Homo sapiens: one gene and its partner. The protein of the gene in region 2 purifies or fractionates together with the protein of the main gene of each other region. This does not show direct contact. Each region holds a gene or a part of one and is shown on either strand. Other genes may lie near its edges. The genes, in order: SMARCA5 and BAZ2B.

What was found.
Region 1: the proteins of BAZ2B (region 2) and SMARCA5 purify together in Homo sapiens (co-immunoprecipitation; one study listed by IntAct). This does not show direct contact.

Annotation. Positions count from the first base shown.
Region 1 is NC_000004.12:143,516,618-143,520,446, reverse strand, and holds part of SMARCA5 (SWI/SNF-related matrix-associated actin-dependent regulator of chromatin subfamily A member 5), read right to left. Parts: intron 3,093-3,829; coding exon 3,018-3,092; intron 1-3,017. UniProt on the Homo sapiens protein: ATPase that possesses intrinsic ATP-dependent nucleosome-remodeling activity.
Region 2 is NC_000002.12:159,606,417-159,610,245, reverse strand, and holds part of BAZ2B (bromodomain adjacent to zinc finger domain protein 2B), read left to right. Parts: intron 1-3,829. UniProt on the Homo sapiens protein: Regulatory subunit of the ATP-dependent BRF-1 and BRF-5 ISWI chromatin remodeling complexes, which form ordered nucleosome arrays on chromatin and facilitate access to DNA during DNA-templated processes such as DNA replication, transcription, and repair.

The DNA of each region.
Region 1 (3,829 bases), on a different chromosome or scaffold from region 2:
TTTCATTGGGTCACAAATGGCAGTCATAGCAGCAAATGAATCTGCACAGTAACAAGACTGTGAACATGCTAGAACCCCAGTAATGTCCTACAGATGACAAGCCTCTGTTATTTATGTTTTCCAAGATTACAGACTGTTTTTAAAGTGCTGAACAAGATACATATGTGAATGCATATTTTACATAATTACATTTCTTAATTTATAGATAATGAAACAAAAGCCAAGAGCACGCATCTACAAGATGTTTGGACTGAAAAAATAATTATTGTAATTATGTTTGGAATCAAGATAAACTGCTTGAAAGAATGAAAAGGTTAAAACTGAAATGTCTTGAGGGAGAAAAACCAACAGAACCTAAAAAGCAGAAACAAGAGAGTATGATTAGGAACCTGAAAGAAATCAATTATAAAATCAAACGGAAATTAAAGTGAATAGCTTTGGACTAGCTTCTTTCTCTGAAACAGGAAGAAATGAGGTAGGATAATAGAGGCTATACATATGTTTGAAAAGAGAAAGAAAATAAAGACAGGCCTGCAATTCTTTGTGGAGGAAGATTGGAAATGAGGGCATGGTAGAAATGGAGAAGAAAGACTGATCAGAGTGGGGACATTTTAGAATGGCTAAATGAGACTGATAGGCAATAAATACTCAAGGTCCAAGAAAATAAAAACCATAAACTTATACTGGCACCAATCAGCACTAGTATTTAGTTTTCTGAAGTAGTACTCAGCATTCTGGGTTCAAGAACGAGGAGTGGATAGTGAACTTATCTATGGTTAGAACTAGCAGATGACAAGGGAGCTTCTTGCTTAGAAGAAAACTGTGCAGGTGAAGATCATGATGTCAAAAAAGGAAATAATGCTGGGAGACTGAAAAACCTGGAAGAAACGAAAAGAGTTCCAATAAAGGCCACTAAGAAAATGAAAAGCATTGTAGAGAGCCACTGAAAAACCTCCATTTCACAGTCAAATTTGTGTTATAAATAACACTTTGCAAAAATGTTAAGAAACTTGGAAGGGGCCAGATCATAAGAAAGGAGGCAAATACAGAAGCACAAAATAATCCATGCAATAATAGAAAAATACTAAACTAGGGTGATATGGAAAAGAGAATAAACTCGTAAGTAAACTTATTGTTTACAAGTATGCAGTACTGTCATGAACATCTTGAGTATACCTGAAGAGGAACTTTCATTCATTGAGGTAACACTAAGGTATGCTAAGTAAAAATTATGAATTCAGTTTTGGATATTCTCAAGTAAGAGGTATGAATAGGATTTTAAAGTAAATGAAAATACGGATTACAGGCTTCTGGGCTAGAGGTTAAGTATTTGAAAATATTCAGTTTAAAGATACCAGGTAAAAACCAGTAAGAATCAAACTGTCTAGGAAGAAATGTTCAAATTTTAATAAGGAAGGACAAAGGAATAAAAAAGCAAAGAGGATATTATCACGGGAAAAAATGTCTTTCAAGGCAAGTCAAGATTTTTGAGGAATGGTCAACAATGTCAAGCACAAATCAAGAAACTAAAACTAAGCCTCAGAATTGGCAATTAGATTCACCAGCAGAGTGTGTCAGAATCTAAACTATAAAGGGTTAAAGCAGTATTAAAATATGTAGACTGTATTCAAAGTAGTATTCACTTTAAAAAAACAGAGCGGCAAATCTATTTTTTCTCTAAGTTTGATAGCAAAAAAGGTGACAGTTACATATATACATATGTAAAATATATAACAAATCAAACCTAAAGATATATCATTTATAATTTACATAGTGTTATATGTATTGTGCATATTATACATGCACATAAAATACATACCATAATTTTAAGATTTTGAAGCTATTTAAGACATTCAAAAATATTTACTGATTTGGAAGAGAAAGTCAAAGGACAAGAAAAAAGTATGTTTTAAAAAATATGTAAGATCTGCTATGTGCCAGATACTGTTCTGGGTACTGAAGACAGAAAGAAAGATTAAGACACTGTTTTTACCCTACAGGAGCACACTGTGTAGTGGTATTCTTATTTAATACATTGTTATTTTAACTTTTTGAGATTTCAATACAATTAAATGAGTTTAATCCATATAAAGCATTCCTAACAGGGTCAGATACGGAGTAAACATTCACTGTTAGCCACTACTACTATTACTAAAACTGAATTTAAATTTAAAGCTCTGTGTAGGTACTGTTTAAGTCAAGTCATAGTTTTGAGAAGTTTCTTAGAAGATACGGAACGTGAACTGGGACTTGAATGACTCCAATATAATGTCATGTTCTTTTTGTAAAGACCCCATCTATAATATAAAAATGCTGTGAACAAGGAGCATATTTCTTTTTTTGGTAACTAGCAGAGTACAATGCTAGTCAAGTGCAGAATAAACATACACTGAGTAACTATTCTGGTCTTCACCTCGCTTCCAAGGTTAAATTTTTAAAGGTGTTGTTAACATAACTAGATAATGACATCATATTATGTTAATTCATATAATACTTCCATTTGGCTTACATAGACACATAAGATATGGAAGTTATAGTATTCCATATTACACATATTTCAAATGGATATCTGTGCCATAATTACAAAAATTAAACAGACATTGCTATGGTTTGACTGTGTCCCCCTCCAAATCTCCCATGTTGTAATTTAATCCCCAACGCAACAGTGTTGGGAGGTAGGGCCTAATAAGAGGTGATTAGGAAAAGATTACTGTCAGTATCTCAGGAGGAGGTTATCACCAGTGAGCTTGTTATAAAAGAAAGTTCAGTCCTGTCTTGCTCTCTTCTCTTGGCCTTCCTCCATATAATGACACTGCAAGAAGGCCCTCAACAAATGCTGGCCTTGACCTTGGACTTGCCAGCCTCCAGAACTCTAAGAAATAAATTTCGTTTCTTTATAAATTACCCAGTCTGTGGTATTGTTGTAACACAAAATGGACTAAGATAGATGTTTAGTACATTTAATCACCTGATAAAAAGTTTTCCTTATAGACTCTATTCACAAGCCTAGAACATACCATTTTTTCTTCATAGGTAGGATCTGGTTCTTGGATTTCCTTTTGCTTTCCAGGTGACGCATCATCAAATATTTCCTGGTAGAAAGAAATAATTAAATAGAATTGGTCTTCGAAAATAGTAAACATACCATTATAGACCAATTTCTGACCAAAACACATCTTAAATAATACATTCTCACCCCAAACTTCCTAGAAACTTAAACAGCTGTCATCTAAGCTAACAGAAAAACTGATAAAATGATATTAGATACTATGGGGATAACAACGTATTTAACCCATATATATAAACTGTATGGTTGTTGCCAAGATTAGAACACAAGATTATCTTCATCATCCTAAAAGAAAACTACATTTAATACAAGCCAATCTGTTTCTCTTTTTCTGTAATAACCATGAAACCAAACTAAATAGTATAAAATGTGGGGAAAAGTTCCCCTTTTGTCATAAAACTACAGTATCTACTGTGCTACCACACAAATGTCTACAAAGAAATCAGAATTAGTCACCCTGATTTCCACCTTCTGGAATATTACAAAAACTTTATCTCGCAGCCTAAATTGAATACTCTAACTACAGTCTGATTCCTAAACTAGTAATAAATGTTATTCTTGCAAATATATTTATCCTGACATTCATATGTCACAAGCAACAAAAAACAACTTCTACACTGCAAAGTTCTATTCATCCATTAAAAAAAATTGGCAGAAGTAATCTTCATTAATGATGCACAAATCTATGCTAGGCAATATATGCTATAATAAAACTATCTGTGACCAAAAAGTTGTGGGGAGGAGATCTGGTACGGTACTGGA
Region 2 (3,829 bases):
TAGTAGGTCAGGTCTGACAATCTGATTGGCTGTAGTAAGAAAGCATTAGGTTGTCAGAAGGACTTTGAGTATGCTGCAGAGATTTTGATTTTTTTTCCTATGAGATCATTGTCATATTGCCTGAGCTGTTATAGGAATGTACCAATGATTGACATTGCCTGCTGTGATAATGGACCTAGTGCATGAAATGCCAATAGTTCGGTCCTATTTGTTCAGAAGCTTACTGCTATTTGTATCCTTAACACAGCTAACATGTAGAACAAGCAAAACTACTGGGATTTCTCTGTAGAAATAGTGCTGGGATTTGGCTTTAACATGAATTGGTTGCATATTCATAATTTAAGAACAGCTGGTTACAGCAAGCACATAGTCATTTGCAAGCTATTATAAACCATTCCACTCACATGGAGCCTGTGCTTGGTGATTTTTTTTTTTTTTTATTGATCTACCTGCATTTAAAATCTGGTCACTGCTGCTACAGAAGCTCTTTATTTTAGCTGTGTTTGCAACACAGAACAGGTTCAATTTTAAATATTTAATTTAAACTTAATGCTGAATAAAATGAAGAAGCTTTGAAGGAAACAAGTGTAAAAGGTCATGTCCTACCTGTCACGGCCAGAATCAACCAAACAAACCTAGATTATACAACTATTGTAATTTTTGGAATATGTGTTTTATGATTTTGTCCATAGATCAATAACAGAATTATCCTGGATTTGGAAATATTGCTAATAATATTTTACTAGTTATACATAGTTTTGGGAAACAACATTAACAGTAGATTGTGATTAATTAGTCTAAAACAATGTCATCTAATATGTAGAAAAGTAGTATAATACTTTTAGCTTATGAGTGGTGGTGTAAAGCAAGATAGAAGGGAAAATTGGCATGACTTTATAACTGGATTAGAATAATGCTAATCCTAAAACTATAGAGTTACTCTAGTTTTTTAGAAGAAATCTAATAAGGAGTCTCTTTTGCTTTTTGAGTCACTTCTGGAGTATTAAGCACAGGTATGCTCTTACAGTATTTAGGTGGTATTGGTAAGTTAGGCCAGCTATAATAGTTTCCTGCATGTTGTCAGTAATAACTGTAAGGAAAGAGGAGAACACCTTTGTGTCTCAAGCTTTTAGTGAGAAGGGTGGGAGGAGAAAATGTTAAATGCTATTTCAGCTCTCCTTTTAGGAATCACAGGGAGCTGTGCTTTGATTTGTGTATATTAAAATAAGTGAATACCTGAGTGATTTACAATGATGCGTTTCCACACATGGTGTTAGGCTCACATGTGCATGTATGTGTTTGTCCCCACACTAGATGATGAAGTAGCTCTCAGCACTTCAAGGTTGAGTACCAGTCCTAAGAGTGCATTTTACTCTTTCTTGGCTTCAGAAATGGCTGGATAGGTTTGTAATATAACAGAATATATGGCCAAATTTAATCCAGCTGATAGTAGGCTGTACTTTTTTTTAAACAACAAATCCAAAGGTTATTAAAGGATGATGCATTGTGTTTTAGTTTTGAGTTGCATAGGATCATAACTATAATTAGTTAACTTTCCATTATTTGAGATTATATCAGGCATTTTGTAAATTATTTTATGTCTTCTTCACTCCCTTTTGACTATTGTCCTTTCATTTATTTCTCTGCTCTTTAGCATCTCATCACAGAATAAAGGAAGGAAAATTCAAACAAATCTGGTTTTCCCTGCCTTCCCCACTTCTTGATGAAGAGGGGTTCTTAGTTTTTGACTAAAATGCAGGTTTGGGATTTTATTTGTCTGCCTTTTCTGGTTCTCATTACATAATTATATTTAGAAAAGAAGAAGGGTGAGTTAATGGACTGGATTTTTATTTTTACTTTTTATTTTTTTGGAGACAGGGTCTCACTCTGTTGTCCAGGCTGGAGTGCAGTGGCACGATCCCAGTTTACTGCAGCTTCAACCTCCTGAGCTCAAGGGATCCCCACCGCCTCAGTCCGCCAAGTAGCTGGGACTACAGGCTTACGCTGCCATGCCTGGCTAATTTTTGTATTTTTGTAGAGACGGGGTTTTAGCATGTTTCCCAGGTTACTCTTGAACTCCTGGACTCAAACAATCTGCGCACCTTGGCCTCTCAAAGTGCTGGGATTACAGGCATGAGCCACCACGCCTGGCCTGACTGAATTTTTCTATACTGTATTAGTAACCCAGCAAAACAGAAAATTTAGACGTTGTTTGAAAAAGTAAAGTGACTCAGTGACATCCACCACAGAATTGCACATATTTGATACATTTGTATTATTCTAGTATTAATAATAGGAAAAGGAGGAGGCATCTACCTTCATTCTTTAAGCTTTTATTGAATGCTATCTCCAAGCATGCTCTGGGAGAGCTATGGATAACAATTTATGGAAGTTCATAGTAGGAGAGAGATGGCTTCTCATTGGAATAATTAGAAAAGGCCCTTCGGTTTAGGTAGCATTGAACTAGATCAAGAACAATTAAATTTTGAATATTCACAGATCAGGAAGAAAAGATCCAAGAAAAGAAGGACTGCATAAGCCTATTATAGAACAAATATAGAGCTAGAGCTCTATATTAGAGCCAATCCATTTGACATCTGGGATGGTTCTGCCTTTTCAAGGTCACCCCAACCCATACCTCTTCCACTAGAAGGAAAAGAAAATGTCATGGGATCCTTCCTTTCAAAATTGACTGCTTGGCTTTTTCTGGAGAAGATGGGTTAATCAGTTTCAATCCTCCATTTCAGTGATAGGCTTATTTGTGAAGGCCGGGTTAAAACTGACAAAACTACCCTTTCTGGTTAGAGGTATTCAAATCTTCTGTTTTGAGATTAACCAGAACCCCTCCCTTTTCCTTGGTTCTTTTCCTATGCTTTTGTGAACAGTTTTTCTGGAAATCTAATGCATGATCCCCCCTGCTAAGAACATTGAGTAGAGAGCAGAGGGTGATATATGTGTATCCCTTTTCTCCATGATGATGGCTCTGGCTCAAAAAACACTTTTACTTCTTTTAGTTCCTTCGGATGAATGCAGAAGACAAGCAGACTGCTGGACTGCCAGTAACGGGCATATCCATAAGGACAAAAAGGAGGGCCAGGCGTGGTGGCTCATGCCTGTAATCCCAGCACTTTGGGAGGCCGAGACAGGCAGATCACTTGAGGCCAGGAGTTTGAGACCAGCCTGGTCAACATGGTGAAACCCTGTCTCTACTAAAAATATAAAAATTATTTTTTTTGAGGCGGAGGTTGCAGTGAGCTGAGATAGTACCACTGCACTCCAGCTTGGGTGACAGAGTGAGACTCCGTCTCAAAAAAAAAAAAAAATAGAAATCCCACTAAAAAAGAGTATGAAAAAGGAAAGATTTAAAAAATTTTCAAAACACAAATGTATGAAAGATCTTTTACATAATGTCTTGGCCAAGGACAATAAATTTTAGTAGTTAGTCTTTTCCTAACTTCATTATTACTACATCATAATAATAATGAAATTTATTATTATTGCATATTAAATGTTTTATTTGCAGTATTGTGATGAACATTTACTTGCAAGAGATTTGTCATAAGAAAACCTTAAAACTTTTATGTAACCATTTTTTATCTTGTACAAGGATAAGTTTTGAGGTAAATTAAAGATGGAAAACAGTGGAAATAAAAAGTTATCTAGTGTCTAAGTTTAGTTCAAAGCCATGCTTACTATCTTTTCTGGTTTCTATGATGACATGGTTGTTGAAACATGCTTCTGATCTTTGGGTAATGTATTACTGTTAACATAAACCATTGTGATGACATAGGAAGCACCAAAACCTATCTTCAACATTTGAAAAAATCAG